Homo sapiens: one gene and its partners. The protein of the gene in region 3 purifies or fractionates together with the protein of the main gene of each other region. This does not show direct contact. Each region holds a gene or a part of one and is shown on either strand. Other genes may lie near its edges.

The links. The genes of interacting proteins can lie anywhere in the genome.
Region 1: the proteins of DTD1 (region 3) and POLK purify together in Homo sapiens (affinity purification with mass spectrometry; one large-scale study listed by BioGRID and IntAct). This does not show direct contact.
Region 2: the proteins of DTD1 (region 3) and TOPBP1 purify together in Homo sapiens (affinity purification with western blotting; one study listed by BioGRID). This does not show direct contact.
Region 4: the proteins of DTD1 (region 3) and PLS1 purify together in Homo sapiens (affinity purification with mass spectrometry; one large-scale study listed by BioGRID and IntAct). This does not show direct contact.

What each region holds. Positions count from the first base shown.
Region 1 is NC_000005.10:75,518,248-75,522,174, reverse strand, and holds part of POLK (DNA polymerase kappa), read right to left. Parts: intron 1-3,927. UniProt on the Homo sapiens protein: DNA polymerase specifically involved in DNA repair. Plays an important role in translesion synthesis, where the normal high-fidelity DNA polymerases cannot proceed and DNA synthesis stalls.
Region 2 is NC_000003.12:133,651,658-133,655,584, reverse strand, and holds part of TOPBP1 (DNA topoisomerase 2-binding protein 1), read left to right. Parts: intron 1-98; coding exon 99-295; intron 296-2,060; coding exon 2,061-2,240; intron 2,241-2,955; coding exon 2,956-3,122; intron 3,123-3,927. UniProt on the Homo sapiens protein: Scaffold protein that acts as a key protein-protein adapter in DNA replication and DNA repair. Composed of multiple BRCT domains, which specifically recognize and bind phosphorylated proteins, bringing proteins together into functional combinations.
Region 3 is NC_000020.11:18,594,520-18,598,446, reverse strand, and holds part of DTD1 (D-aminoacyl-tRNA deacylase 1), read right to left. Parts: intron 2,442-3,927; coding exon 2,206-2,441; intron 1-2,205. UniProt on the Homo sapiens protein: Possible ATPase involved in DNA replication, may facilitate loading of CDC45 onto pre-replication complexes. An aminoacyl-tRNA editing enzyme that deacylates mischarged D-aminoacyl-tRNAs.
Region 4 is NC_000003.12:142,602,750-142,606,676, reverse strand, and holds part of PLS1 (plastin-1), read right to left. Parts: intron 1-3,927. UniProt on the Homo sapiens protein: Actin-bundling protein. In the inner ear, it is required for stereocilia formation. Mediates liquid packing of actin filaments that is necessary for stereocilia to grow to their proper dimensions.

The sequences.
Region 1 (3,927 bases), on a different chromosome or scaffold from region 3:
CCCCCACCATCTTGGGGTCCTGACAGAAGACCTGTCCCTGACCCAATCCATGGGAAGCATCATGAGTACACAAAGGGAGAAACAGCCCTGAGGACACTCAGAGACAGATGGGGAAGGCAGGACTACCATTCCCAGTCTTGGAAACTCTGCTCTTTAACTTAGTCAAAGGAGACACCAAATCAGAGTACTTGTTCGGCAGGACCACTAGGTAGGAGGTACGTTCCACAGGTCCCCTGGGCACAAACCCCTAGCCAGCCTTTCTACACTGCTGAGATATCACCTTTGGGACCTCCCCAATTCCTAACAGGCAACACTCTGATCCTTTACTAGGGCAGAGGCAAAGCTGGAATTAAGCCTCCATCTAGTGCCAAAAAAGAGGCAGAGTGACCTAGCAGAAAAAAAAAAAGAAATTCAACAGGTAAGTTACAAAGAATCTCTAAGCAAACATGTCCAATAAAAACCAAACTAGTCAGAGAAGACTAAAATAAATAAATAATGTTTCAATGCAAAGACATAGATGTACATCCAAAAGAAACAACAGCAAACCATTATCTCCTCAAATGGACAAAGCAAGGAACCAGTGACTAACCCTAACGAGAGAGTGATATGTGAGCTCTTGGACCATGAATACAAAATAGTGATTTTATGGAAACTCAGTGACATCCCAAATAACACAAAAAATCAATCTAGAAATGTATCAGAGAAAATTAACAGAGTTTGAAACAATAAAAAATCAAACAAATCTTGGTGGAACTGAGAAATACGTTTGCTGAACTAAAAAATTCATTAGAGGCTCTCAACAACATAGTGGATCAAGCAGAAAAAAACAATCAGTAAGCTAGAAGGCAGGCTATTTTAAAACACATAGATGAGGAAAAAAAATAATAAAAAGGAATGAAGATTGCCTAGAAGATATAGAAAATCACCTCAAAAGACTAAATCTAAGAATTACTGGTATTCAAGGAGCTGAGCAAGAGCAGGAGTAGAAAGTTTATTCAAAAAAATAAAGCTTCCCAAAATCTAAGAAAAATATCAATATTCAGGCCAGAGAACACGAACAGATTTGACCTAAATAAAACTACCCCAAGGCATATAATAATCAAACTCTCAAATGTCAAGGACAAAGAGAGGCTCTTAACAGTAGCAAGTTAAAAAAAAGCAAATAACATATAAAGGAGCTTCAATTTGTTTGGCAACAGACTCCACAATGGGAACCAAATAAGCCAGGAGAGAGTGGGATGACATTTTCAAAGTGCTGAAAGAAACAACTGCCATTGAAGAATATTATATTCAGCAAACCCATCCTTCAACTACAAAAAAGGAAAGATAAAGTCTTTCCCAGACAAACAAGCACTGAGAAAATTCACCATCACCAGACTCATTTTACAAGAAACACTAAAGGGAGTTCTTCAATCTCAGAGAAAAAAAATGTGCAAAAAGAAAACATTTAAAGGTATAAAACTCATTGCTAGTCTATTACAGGCACTGTGGTTCATGCCTGTAATACTAGCTACTTGGAAAGCTAAGTCAGGAGGACTGCCTGAGGCCAGGAGTTTAAGACTATCCTGGGCAACATCATAAGACCTTATCTCTAAAAAAAATTTTTTTTCTAATTACCTGAGCATGGTGGCAAATGCCTGTAGTCCCAGATACTTGGGAGGCTAAGGTGGGAGAATCATTTGAGCCCAGGAGTTCGAGACTACAGTGAGCTATGATTATGCCACTGCACTCCAACCTCGGTGACAAGGCAAGACCCTGTCTCTGAAAACAAAAATAAAATAAATAAAATCCTCTGGTAAAGGTAAGTACATAGATAAACCCAGGATGCTCTAATACTATAATTGTTTTTGGTCCTCCCATAATTCTAGTATGAAGTCTAAAAGACAAACTTGTTAAAAACAATCGTAGCTACAGCAACCTGTTAAGAGACAGGCAATATAAAAATATGTAAGTTGAGACAATAAAAAGTCAAAATTTTAGGGGTGATAGAGTTAAAGTGTAGAAGTTTTTAAATTTCTTTGTTAGTTTCTATTTTTTTCTTTGCTATCTAAGATAAGTTGTCATTGTTTTAAAATAACTTGTCATAGCTCTAAAACTTTTTAATAAACCTCACGGTAACCACAGTGCAAAAACCTATAATAGATACACTAAAAATAAACAGCAATTAATTAAAACATACTATCAGAGAAAATCACTTAACCACAAAAGAACACAGAAAGGAAAAGAGAGGAGTACAAAACAACCACAAAACATGCAATAAAATGGCAATAATAAGTTCTTACTTACCAATAATAACACTGAATGTAAATGAACTCAAGTCTCCAATTAGAAGACACAGAGTAGATGACTGGATAAAGAAACAAGACCAAACCATACAATTCCCACAAGAAATCCACTTCACCTACACAGACACACATAACACTCTAAGTGAAGGGCTGGAAAAAGGTATTCCATGCAAGGGGAAACCAGAAAAGAGCAGGAGTAGCTAACATATCAGATAAAATACGACTATAAGTCAAAGACTCCAAAAAGTGAGCAAGAAGGTCACTATATTATGATAAACAGGTCAATTCAGCAAAAGGATATAACAATTAATATCTAAGCATCCAATACCAGAATACCCAAGTCTATAAAGCAAATATTGATAGACATAAAGGGAGAGATAGAGTGCAATATAATAATAGTAGGAGACTTCAACACCCTACTCTCAGGAAAGGACAAATCATACAGACAGAAAATCAACAAAGAAACAGGGGAGTTAAACTAGACCAAATAGGCCTAATTGACATTATAGAATATTTCACCCAACTGCTGCAGAACAGACAATCTTTTCATCAGCATATGAAACATTCTCCAGAACAGACCACATCTTAGGCCACAAAACAAGTCTCAAAAAGTCAATTAAGTAGAAATCATATCACATATCTTTTGTAACCACAATGGAATAAAACTTGAAATCATTAACAAGAGGAACCTGGGAAACAATACAAAAAATTAATTAATTGTTTGATTTAATTTGGAGTAAGTTCAAATCAAATGACTTGTTCCTGGCAGGGCATGGTGGCTCATGCCTATCATCCCAGCACTTTGAGAGGTCAAGGTGGAAGGACTGTTTGAAGCCAAGAGTTTGAGGCCAGCCTGGGCAGCACAACAATACCTGGGCTGGCTGGGCTTGGTGGTGTTATGCCTATTGTCCTAGCTACTCAGGAGGCTGAGGCAGGAGCATCACCTGAACCAAGGAGATTGAGGATGCAGTGGGTCATGATCACACCACTGCACTCCAACCTAGGTGACAAAGTGAGACGCTGTCTCTATTTAAGAAGGGAATTTAAAAATATTCTGAATCAAATGACAATGGAAACACAAAATACCAAAATCTATGGGATAAAGCAAAAGTAGCAGTACCAAGAGAGAAGTTTACAATAATAATTGTCTACATCAAAAAAGGAGAAAGATTTCAAATAAATAACCTAACAATGCATCTCAAAAACTAGAAAAGCAGGAACAATCCAAACCCAACATTAGTAGAAGAAAATAAATAATGAAGATAAGAACAGCAGTAAATAAAATTGAGACTAAAAAAATACAGGTCAACAAAAGTTGTTTTTTCAAAAAGATAGATGAAATTGACAAAACTTTAGACAAATAAAAGAAAGAAAATTCAAATAAATAAAAACAGAAATGAAAAAGTAGACATACCAACTGAGACCACAGAAATACAAAGAATCATTATATACTATTATGAGCAACTATACGCCAACAAATTGGAATAGCTAGAAGAAATTAATAAATTCCTGGACACTTACAACCTACCAAGATTGAAACATGAATAAACTGAAAACCTGAACAGACCAGTAAGTAATAAGATGGAAGCTGCAATAAAAAGTCTTTCATCAAAGAAAAGCCTGGAACCTGATGGCTTCACTG
Region 2 (3,927 bases), on a different chromosome or scaffold from region 3:
CCTAAAAAATGAGGGAAGCAATAGTGATATTTGTGTTGTTTTTCATTATTCTTCTGGTAAATTTAATATGTTCTTTTTTAACCATTTGATTCCCACAGAAAAATAACTAGATATACTGATATAAACATGGAAGATTTCAAGTGTCCTATTTTTCTTGGTTGCATAATCTGTGTGACTGGCTTATGTGGCTTAGACAGGAAAGAAGTTCAGCAACTCACAGTTAAGCATGGAGGTCAATACATGGGACAATTGAAAATGAATGAATGTACACACCTCATTGTGCAAGAACCAAAAGGTAAAACTGTGTTTCACAAAGGGACAAATGAAACATTTTCTCTAGTATTTAATATTTTATTTTTATTTATTTATTTATTTATTTTGAGACAGAGTCTTGCTCTATTGCCCAGGCTGGAGGGCAGTGGCACAATCTCAGCTCACTGCAACCTCTGCCTCCCTTGATCAAGCGATTCTCCCAACTCAGCTTCCCGAGTAGCGGGATTACAGGCACCTGCCACCACGCCTGAATAACTTTTTATTTTTAGTAGAGACGGGCTTTCACCATGTTGGCCAGACTGGTCTCTAACTGACCTCAATTGATCTTCCCACCTCAACCTCCCAAAGTCCTGGGATTACAGGCATGAGCCACCGTGCCCAGCCACTAATATTTAATATTTTAAAATCTTTACAGAACAGCTTTTACTTCTGACATGTCATTAATCTAGTTTGATACTGTTTTCTCTAACATCTTGCAAAGATGTTTTCTCTAACATCTTGCAAAGTTTTAACTGGAAGACACACCTTGCGGCACATGAGGCAGTAAAAAATGAAAAAGACATTACGAACAAGAAAAATTCTTTAAAATTGCTATTAAGTTTGGTGTTACATAACATTATTCTGGATAATTTTTTATCAGCACTCTTAAAATATACACAAATTGATAAAAGATGAGTTTTGTTAATGTTTTTATTATTGCCCTTTATATGTATACTGTGTTTTACTAAGCTATCTAGATTGAGAAGAAATTACGATTAAATGGTAATTGTCCTTAAGTCAGAACTTTGAGTATGGCTGATTGTGATAGGATCACTGTGAGTAGAGTTGATACTGCTGTTCTTTTTCTGAATCTGAAGACAGTTCATTGTTGATTCTCTCAAGAATGCCAAAAAACCTTTCATGTGACATATTGACCTCAATTCCTCTGTGATACTGCTTCAAAATACATTGTGTTGAAGATTTTTAAGGTAATAAAAGATACATATTTTCAATATAATTTATCTTTTGGCTTATCTATCCTGGACTTTAAGTAGAAGCCTGTTGACATTGGAATAGTCTGTTCAAAGTTGGGATTTATTATATAGCACAAATTTACAATTTTCACATTGTACAAGCTGGTTTAAAGAAATTAAGTGATGGAGCCTATATGCAAACCCAAGTCCAATATTAATTAAGTTACCCCACAGTTGCTTCTGTCTTCCTGCAGTTTGTATAAAAGATAAAACCTCTCACATGGCATATGTATTTATACTACACATAGAAAATATAATTAGGCAATAAGCTAAAATACTACTTTGTAATAAACTGTGTAGCATACTGTTTAAGAGTAAGTACTGGTAACTTTAATTTTGTTGATAGGTTTTTGAAATAACCTGTTATAGCCGGGCGCGGTTGCTCACGCTTGTAATCCCAGCATTTTGGGAGGCCAAGGCAGGCGAATCACCTGAGGTCAGGAGTTTGAGACCAGCCTAGCCAACATGGTGAAACCCCGTGTCTACTAAAAATACAAAAAAATTAGCCAGACATGGTGGCACACGTCTGTAATCCTAGCTATTCAGGAGGCTGAGGCAGGAGAATCGCTTGATCAGGAGGGAGGTGGAGGTTGCAGTGAGCCAAGATCTCACCACTGTACTCCAGCCTGGGCAACAGAGTGAGACTCCATCTCAAAAAAAAAAAAAAAATATTAACCTGTTATAATTTGAATATTTCTGCAAAGATAGATTGTAATGGTTTTCATTTCTTGGTTTCTCCTATTTTCTCTATTTCTTTCTTAATGAACGCCACAGGTCAGAAGTATGAGTGTGCCAAGAGATGGAATGTACACTGTGTGACCACACAGTGGTTTTTTGACAGTATTGAGAAAGGTTTTTGTCAGGATGAATCCATATACAAGACAGAACCTAGACCAGAAGCAAAGACTATGCCCAATTCTTCAACTCCTACCAGCCAGATCAACACAATTGATAGTGAGTCTCATTGAGATTAAAATAATTATTCTGAAGACAGTCATATTTCTATGTAATAATCAGTATGTTAATAGGATCACTGAGATAGGGAATTTCTTTTTCTTGTTTGCTGTGCTTCTAGGCATAATTGTATAATAGTCAAATTGTATAAAAAGTTAGCACTGAACTGTTCGTAATTTTCTTTTAGAATGAATGAATGCTGTCTTTTATACTCTGTTGTAATGCAAAAGATGATCAAAGAAATTAAGAACAATGGTAGCTGGGGGCTTAAGATAAAAGTATTAATCTTTTAAACATTACATGCATATATTAATCTTTCCTTAATTTACAGTTTTGCTGCAGTTATAGATCATCTGTATTTGTATAAAAATTAAAACCATTTCTATTTTGTAGGTGTCGTGTTGGCAAAATGTTTAAAATATTTTTTCAAATGTAAGCTTCTTGGACCTTAAAGTCAGCAACTTCAGATTTTTATGGGAAACAAGACACTATTAAGAAAATGTGTTAAATCTATTTTCATTTAAATAAGATAGGAGGCTTAATTAATTTCATTTTCCCTTTTTATACTTTGCCACTAAGATTTCAGTAAACACCCCTGAATCTTACTTTGGAAGTTGTTTATTGCCCTATATTTGTAAGAAAAGTTAATCCATAGACAATATGTAATCATGATTATTTTATCTCCCATAAATTTATACGTTTTCAAAATATGTAGGTCGTACTCTTTCAGATGTCAGCAATATTTCCAACATAAATGCAAGTTGCGTAAGTGAATCAATATGTAATTCACTTAACAGCAAACTGGAGCCTACACTTGAAAATCTAGAAAATCTGGATGTCAGTGCATTTCAAGCACCTGAAGATTTATTAGATGGTTGTCGGGTACGTCTTTATTATATAATACATGCAGTAGATGATATACATTAGCATTTCCTAGCCTGACTTTGAAGACCCTTCAGAGTTGGGCTTGCTCCTTACTATCTATGTAAACCCTCCACTCTAGCTAAGTAGATGCACTTACTAGACCATGTCCATCCTTTGGCTGCGAGAGTCCCTCTGCCTGCAAGGTATCTTCCTCTGTTATCTTTTAAAAGTTCATTTCAGGTTTTAACTCTTCTCTGAACCCTCCTAACTACATTAATCTTTTCATCTGCTATATTTCGAGAGCACTTAGTTTCTGAACAACTTATTGGATTTTTTTTTTTTAATTTTTTTGAGTTAGGGTCTCACTCTGTTGCCCAGGCTGGGATGCAGTGGCACAATCATAACTTCCTGTAACCTTGAACTCCTGGGCATCAGCCACCCCTCAGTCTCCCGAGCAGTTAGAACTACAGGCATGTGCCACTACACCTGGCTAATTTTTAAAATTTTTTTGTAGAGACAAGGTCTCACTATGTTGCCCAGGTTTGGACTTTAAACTATCATCCAAGTGTTTACAGTGTATTAGACACTGTGCTAATCATTTTATGTGTGTTAATATATATATAAAATCGCATTTAAGTCCCACAAATAACTCTAAAATGGATATTATCTTGAGGGTAAGACTTAGAGAATTAAAATTCTTGTTCAGAGTCACACAGAGAGACATTAAGTGGCCAGTTATCTACTCCAAAGTCTGTATTCCTCACCATTAGAGCCACTGCTTTGTTTGGTATTTCTTGGGTTATTTAGTTTTTTAGTATATGAA
Region 3 (3,927 bases):
TGCACACGTATGTTTATTGCAGCACTTTTTACAATAGCAAAGACTTGGAACCAACCCAAATGTCCATCAGTGATAGACTGGATAAAGAAAACGTGGCACCTACACACCATGGAATACAATGAGCCATAAAAAAGGATGAGTTCACGTCCTTTGCAGGGACATGGATGAAGCTGGAAACCATCATTCTCAGCAAACCATCACAAGAACAGAAAACCAAACGCCACATGTTCTTACTTATAAGTGGGAGTTGAATAAGGAGAACACATGGACACACCGGGACCTGTTGAGGGGTGGGGGGCTAGGGGAGGGATAGCATTAGGAGAAATAACTAATGTAGGTGACGGGTGGATGGATGCAGCAAACCACTATGGCACATGTATACCTATGTAACAAAACTGCACGTTCTGCACATGTACCCCAGAACTTAAAGTATACTAATAATTTTTTTACAAAAAAAGACAAAATGTTGGGAGAAAAGAACTGTCAAGCTAGGATTCCATGCCCAGCTAAGCAATCATAAAGAATTAAGGCAAAATAAAAACATTTTAAAACCTACAATGACTATGTTCCACTAACACATTCTTAGTAAACAACTGATATATCATAGAATGTACTTCAGAAAGAAGAGCCCAAAGAAGGAAGCAAGACAGGTTGGTGACCACAGAAATTGATAAAATATATTATCAAATACAGCCAGTTACAGATTATAAATAAATTATGATTAAAAGTGATTATGATTATGATGAAAAGAAAAGTGGCAACATGGATGAACCTTGAAAACATTATGCTAAGTGAAAGAAGCCAGGAACAAAACCACACATTATATAATTCCATTTACATAAAATGTTCAGAATAGACAAATCTAAAGAGACGGAAAGTAGATTAATGGCTGCCTAGGACTGGGGCAACAAAGAAGAGAGTGGGAGTAGGCTAGTACTGTTGATGAGTACAGGATTTCTTTTAAGTGGGACAAAAGTGTTATAAAATTAGATTGTGGCAATGGTTGCACAACTCTTAACTAAAAAAATTGACTTGTACACTTTAAATAGGTGAATTGTACAGTATGTGTATTATATCTTAATAAAGTCATTTTAAAAAGTGGAACTAGAAAGGAAAAGGGGATGTTCAAATATACTAAGATCCTTATAAATTTTGATAGAAATTTTTGTAACTATTCATGAATGTTAAAAACTTAGAAATAACCATTAGGAGAACAAAAACACCATCTATAGCTCCTTCTCTCTATACACACACACACACACACACACACACACACACACACACACACACACTTTCTCTCATCTACTAAAAGAGAGAGTCTATGAGACTAGGTCAAAAAAGCTTATTGAGAAGCCAGAACAGAAAAAGAAACAAAATCATAAAAATAAAATAAAAAATATTCTGTATGATACTGTAATGGTAGACACATGTCATTATAAATTTGCCCAAACCCAGAGAATATTAGAGTGAACCCTAGTGCCAACAGGAGACTGTGGGTGATAATGATGTGCCATGAACAACAGTTATAATCCAACAATGAACTTAGGTTCATCAGTTGTAACAAATGCACCACTCTAGTGGTGGATGTTGATAATGAGTGAGCCTATGCATGCGGGGGCAGAGATATATGGAATATCTCTGTACCATCCTCTCAATTTTACTGTGAACCTAAAACTGCTCTAATCAAATAAAGCCTTTATTTAGAAAAAAAAAAAAGAGAATGTAAACTACCTCATCATTGTTTATAACGACTACATAGTAAAATCATATTTTGAATATATTCAGTTAAATAAAATATATTTTTTAAATTAATTTCACCTATTTCTTTTTATTTTTTTAAATATGGCTACAAGAACTTAAAATGACATATTTGGCTCACATTTGAGGCTTGCACTATACTTCTATTGGACAGGGCTAAGCTAAACAATCAAAGAAATACCACTGTATTAGCCACACCTCTGGGTTCCCAAACATTTTCAAAATGTGAACAGAAGAAGGGAGGAGGGCAAATGCCAGCAGAAGCATTCTGAGGACATGTGTTAAGTACAACAGCAGCAATAGCAGCAGCTAGTATGTGGTTCTAAGTAAGTAACAAGCATAAACAATGACTTTCCAGAAAAGGAGATGCTGCAGTTGCAGCTTCTTTTTTCTCTCCATCCAGGAGTGTCCCAAAGACCCGTTCCTGGATGTGGCTCTCCTGCTTACCTTTGATAAGCTCCGGCCTGTATGTTTTACGCAGCTGCTCCAGGAAGCTGTTGTAGAAGCCCTCTGCCTGCTCCGTGGGCATTGCTAGGTGGAAATCAGGCTTGTTTCCCTTCAGGACACACTGGAGGGTAAACTGGCTGACACACAGAATCTCGTACTGTTTGTCCATCACACTCTTCGACCAGTGCTTCCCACTCTCATCCTCAAATACACGCAGGTTTAGAATCTTTCGGACCCTAAGGGGAAAAAGAGCAGTGAGAGCTACCTGAGAGATCACAAGCCCCCCAACACACTCCATACCCCAAAAATGTCACCAGCTTCCGGTCAAATAAGGACATAATGATGACTCCATCCCTGACAGGAGGCATGACCTCAGGCAAGTCACTTATCCACCCTGTGCTTCAGTGTCCTCAGCTGCGATACAGAATAATAACAGTTCTACCTCACACGGTTGTTTTGAGATTGCTTCTTTTTTGCCAGTCGCTCCAGTTCATAGCAGCTACTGGTGAGAACTGGGGCTAAGATGACAACCACCTATTCTCTGCTCCTTTAGGTCGGGGATATGTCAAAACATGGGTCCAATTGTAATTTTTCATGAACGAATTCATCATGTTAGGATAAATGACATCCATTTTTAAACCCCTTCTTGGAGCTACTCAAAATGAACAATTCGGCTGAGAACGGTGGCTCATGCCTGAAATCCCAGTACTTTGGGAGGCCACAGTGGGTGGATCACCTGAGTTCAGGAGTTCAAGACCAGCCTAGCCAACATAGAGAAACCCCATCTCTACTACTAAAACTACAAAAGTTAGCCAGGCATGGTGGCGGGCGCCTTTAATCCCAGCTACTCAGGAGGCTTAGGCACAAAAATCGCTTGAACCAGGGAGGCAGAGATTGCAGTAAGCTAAGATTGCACCACTGCACTCCAGCCTGGGTGACAGAGGGAGACTCTGTCTCAAAAGAAAAAAAAAAGAAAGAACAATTCAGCAAATACACTGAGAGAAAAATCATGGTTATTGCAAATATGCAAAAAGATCTGGAGAAAGACACCTTGAAAACTATGTCACAAGCTCCTTAAGCCCCAGAGGGGCTTTCCCTATACATGTGAAGAAGGATAGTCACCATGGCAAGAAAGTTGACCAGGTGACATCTATAGGGTCAGATTTGAGAAGCACAGCAGAGAACCACCAGCATGAAAGCTGAAATCTCACCATTTGAGAGCCACCCTTCTGGATGATGTTAAGTAGATGACAGTTTCAAAGACTCTATAAATACTAATTAACTGACTCTTAATATGGGCACCCTCAGGGACAGGTGCTACTCATTACCCCCTCTCCACAGCCAAGATTTGTCTTATGTTGAATCACATCTCTTAAGCACCAGGCTAAGTATTAGCTCTGTAGTATGTCAGAGCCATAAAGACATTCAAACCCACAGCCTCAGTTTTTAGCCATTACACCACTCTACCACTTCTTTGAGTATCCAGAGGACAGCTACTAAAATACCACCATCACTGAAATAGTATTGAATGATAGTTATCCATCATCAACACCTTAGCAGGAATTCAGTTTCAAGTCTGATTTTCAATCTAACACAAAAGAATCAGTTGGGCAGGGTTATACCCAAGCTCTGAGCACCAAGGGGCAGAATAAATGGATCCAGCATCTAAAGTAAATGTGCCCCGTGGTAATGGAGGGGAGGAGGTGCACAGAGGGCACATTC
Region 4 (3,927 bases), on a different chromosome or scaffold from region 3:
GAAATTTCAAGAATAGGCAAATATATAGACAGAAAGTAGATTTGGCATTGCCTAGGGTAGGGGCAGCTGGGGAGGAGGTAGTAGAAAATGAGGAAAGTGCTAATGAATACAGGGTAATTAAAATATTGTAAAACTGACTATACAGTTTAAATTGGAGAATTGTATGATATTAAGGAAAGTCTGAGAAACTGTCACAGCCAAGAGTAATAAAACTGTTATTTTAAAAACAATGTCATGTGTGCCAAGAATACTGATGAAACATCATTTAATCCTATTCAAAGTGAAGATTTTGACAACGTGTGGTTGATATGAAACCTTTAATTTCTCTGAGAAGTCCCGCTGCTTGCTTTAGTAATACCCTTAATGCCTCAGGACATAACATACTCAAAAAAAAACTGTGCATAAAGAAGTTCTAAATGAATCTTGGTATCCTTTCTAGATTAAATGAGCAACATGCACATCACAAGGTCTTCCTTAAGTGTGCCTGAGATGTGAAATAGCATGCAGACTATTCCCACTGATATTTAATAATACATTAACATGCAAAAATGGGTATCATTGTGTACCCTTTTGTACAATGTTTCAGGATTCAGTTATTTCCTCTGAATTACTAGAAAATTACAATGTTTTGGGTTCTCCCATTATTTATTGTCCTAGTGGTATGAGAAATGCTTATAGTAACCTTGCAGAAATACTTCAATTAAGGCTTAGTCTCCCACAGAACAATATATATCACATAGGGAGAATATAACTTTGTAAAATATTTAGAAAGTTTAATCTTTTATCCTACACATTCCAGATGTACATTAGCAGGAAGTATAAGTTTTAAAACAAAACTACTTTGTTCAAGATGAAAGAGATGGATATTTTCCCATGTTAATCAACTCTTATTTCAAGAACTCATTTTAATGTTAATATGCTCCATAGTTGAGGGTTAGCCATAAAATACATTTAGACTTTTATAAAAATTGCACATAAATTTCATAGAGGAATTATTTCATATGGTCAGTAACAGAAGAAAATATGAATTGACTGCAAGAGCACTAGATTTGGAGCTAGACTGAAGTCCCATGAGGTCAGGAGTTCGAGATCAGCCTGGACAACATGGAGAAACCATGTCTCTACTAGAAATACAAAAATTAGCTGGGCATGGTGGCACATGCCTGTAACCCCAGCTACTGGGGAGGATGAAGCAGGAGAATCACTTGAACCCGGGAGGCGAAAGGTTGCAGTGAGCCAAGATTGTGCCCCTCACTCCAGCCTGAGCAACGGAGCAAGACTCTGTCTCAAAAAAATTAACCCTGACATTTTTTCAAATGTTGAAATTATAAGACACAGTTATGAGTTTAATTTCTGGCAGTTTCAAATCAGGCAACCTCCAGCAGGCAAGTCATTCTCTAAGTCTTGGCCACTTATCAGTGAAAGGAAGTAAAATCAGAAAGCTTTTTTAAACATCAATAAATGCCTTTCCTCTATCTTGTAGTTGACTAGTTACTTTCACATCCACTATCTTGTTTAATTATCAAACCTACAGCTGAAGAGAAGGCCTTCCTTCTCATGGGGTCAGAAACAGAATCACAGACTTTGACTTCTCATCCATGGTTCTGATCATAGGCCAACTGGTTTCAGGTATCTAAACTTTAAATTGCCCTAAGACTCATTTTAATTGACCACTAAACATTCAGAGATTTTCAGATTTCCTTTTTCCACTGATAATAATCTTGAATTTTTTTTTTTTTTTGAGACGGAGTCTTGCTCTGCTGCCCAGGCTGGAGATGCAGTGCCGTGATCTCAGCTCACTGCAAGCTCTGCCTCCCGGGTTCACGCCATTCTCCTGCCTCAGTCTCCTGAGTAGCTGGGACTACAGGCACCCACCACCACGCCTGGCTAATTATTTGTATTTTTTAGTAGAGACGGGGTTTCACCATGTTAGCCAGGATGGTCTCAATATCCTGACCTCGTGATCCGCCTGCCTCGGCCTCCCAAAGTGCTGGGATTACAGGCGTGAGCCACTGCACCTGGCCAATAATCTTGAATTTAATTTGGCTATTTGAGGATAAGAAAGGGATCAAGCAAATTGCTATTATTGTTGTTTTTCCAAAATCAACTCACTTCCATGACAACTTCTGATGAAAAACATTGGGTTTTGGTGAGCTGTGTTTCACAGATGGCACCTCACTGACCTGATTAACACTTAAAATTCCAATAACTAGGTCACTCTTAGAAACATTTCCTTGACCAAAAGGATGTCCCAATGATCTTAAACCTGGGGAGAGGGGAAGGAAAAGGGAGACCGCCAGGAAAGAATTCAGAGTGCTCTCCAGGAAGAGACAGCAGGAGTCTTTGAGAGGTTTTGGTTTATTTACAAAGATTATAAATACTAACTTGATATCAACCTAGAGATTCTACTTGTCTAAACCTTTCCCCCTCTTTTATTCATTCCAAGCAGCCCTTGGTCCAAGGTGTAATTAACAAGACCGATCCTTCCACACACATTTACCAGTGTCTTAAATTCAAATCCAAATTCTATTTTGGCAGTACTGCTAAAATCTCTTATTTCTTAGTTCTCAAAAAAATTGAAGGAGCTTTTGTCATTTTTTTAATATAAACATCTTCTTTCTTGAAACTGGATCTATAAACAATTTAATGTATTGTGTTCCTCAATAATAGAGTAAATCTGATTTCTGCTAATATTTTGGGTCAGTGACACCCCAAAACCTTTTGCTTTTTATCATGAAGAAGCCCCTCAGACACCTTCTACCTTACTAATGTCTCCATCCAATTTACTATCAAGAAAAGACAGTTTCTCCTTTTTTTTTGTGGTCAGCTTGGATCTTTTGAAGGAGGCATGTCTGTGTGCAGTGAGTTATCACCCAGATGTTCTTGTAGGTATTTTTTTTTTTTTTTGAGGCAGGGTTTCACTTTGTCACCCAGGCTAAAGTGCAGTGGCACAATCTCAGGTCACTGCAGCCTCAATCTCCTGGGCTCAAAATGATCCTCCCACCTCAGCCTAAGTAACTGGGACTACAGGCACGCGCCACCATGCCCAGATAATTTTTTTGTAGAGACGATGTTTTGCCATGTTGCCCAGGCTGGTGTTGAACTCTTGAGCTCAAGCGATCCACCTGCCTCAGCCTCCCAAAGTGCTGGGATTATAGGCGTGAGCCACCATGCCCAGCCAGTCTCGTAGTTTTATAGCTGTGAATTGCTCACAAAAGTCAATCATAAAATTTAGTTTATCGTAAAGTCTGAAGTCCCTTCACCACTGGACTTTATGAACAAAGCTATGTCTAACTCTGCTAGGAAATATTTTCTGATGAAACAAGTGTTTTAAGTAAGAAAAAACTCTCCCAATCATCTAACTCCTCACCCTTTCTGTGCCCACAATATTACTATAATAAAAAGCAACGTGCCTTTACAGAAGCCATGCTACATATGTCTCACCAAAAACGGCACATAGGCACTTTCAGACACAGTGCTAAAAAGAAATCAGATGATCAAAGTTGAACAGCCTCACATCTCATGTGACCTTACATGTCAGCAAAGTTTCCAGCAATCAAAATTGTATAACCATTTTATAACCAATAAACCCGTATGCAGCACAAATGTCTCTTTCTCCCCGACGTTCATCATCAGCCAGAGTAAAATGTTAATTCGGAACTGGATGAAGTGACAAGCTTTTGAATGTTGAGAGAATGAGGGCCAGAGGTGGCCTCAGCCTCAACACTTTGGGAGGCTGAGGCGGGCGAGTCACTTGAGGTCAGGAGTTGGCGACCAGCCTGGCCAACATGGTGAAACCCCGACTCTACTAAAAATACAAAAATTAGCCCGGTGAAGCCAGAAGCTGCGGCCCTGCCTTTCATATCCTGGGAACACAGAACCACTCAGGGGAAGGTAAAGCAGAACCAGGAAATGGAAAGAGAGCTC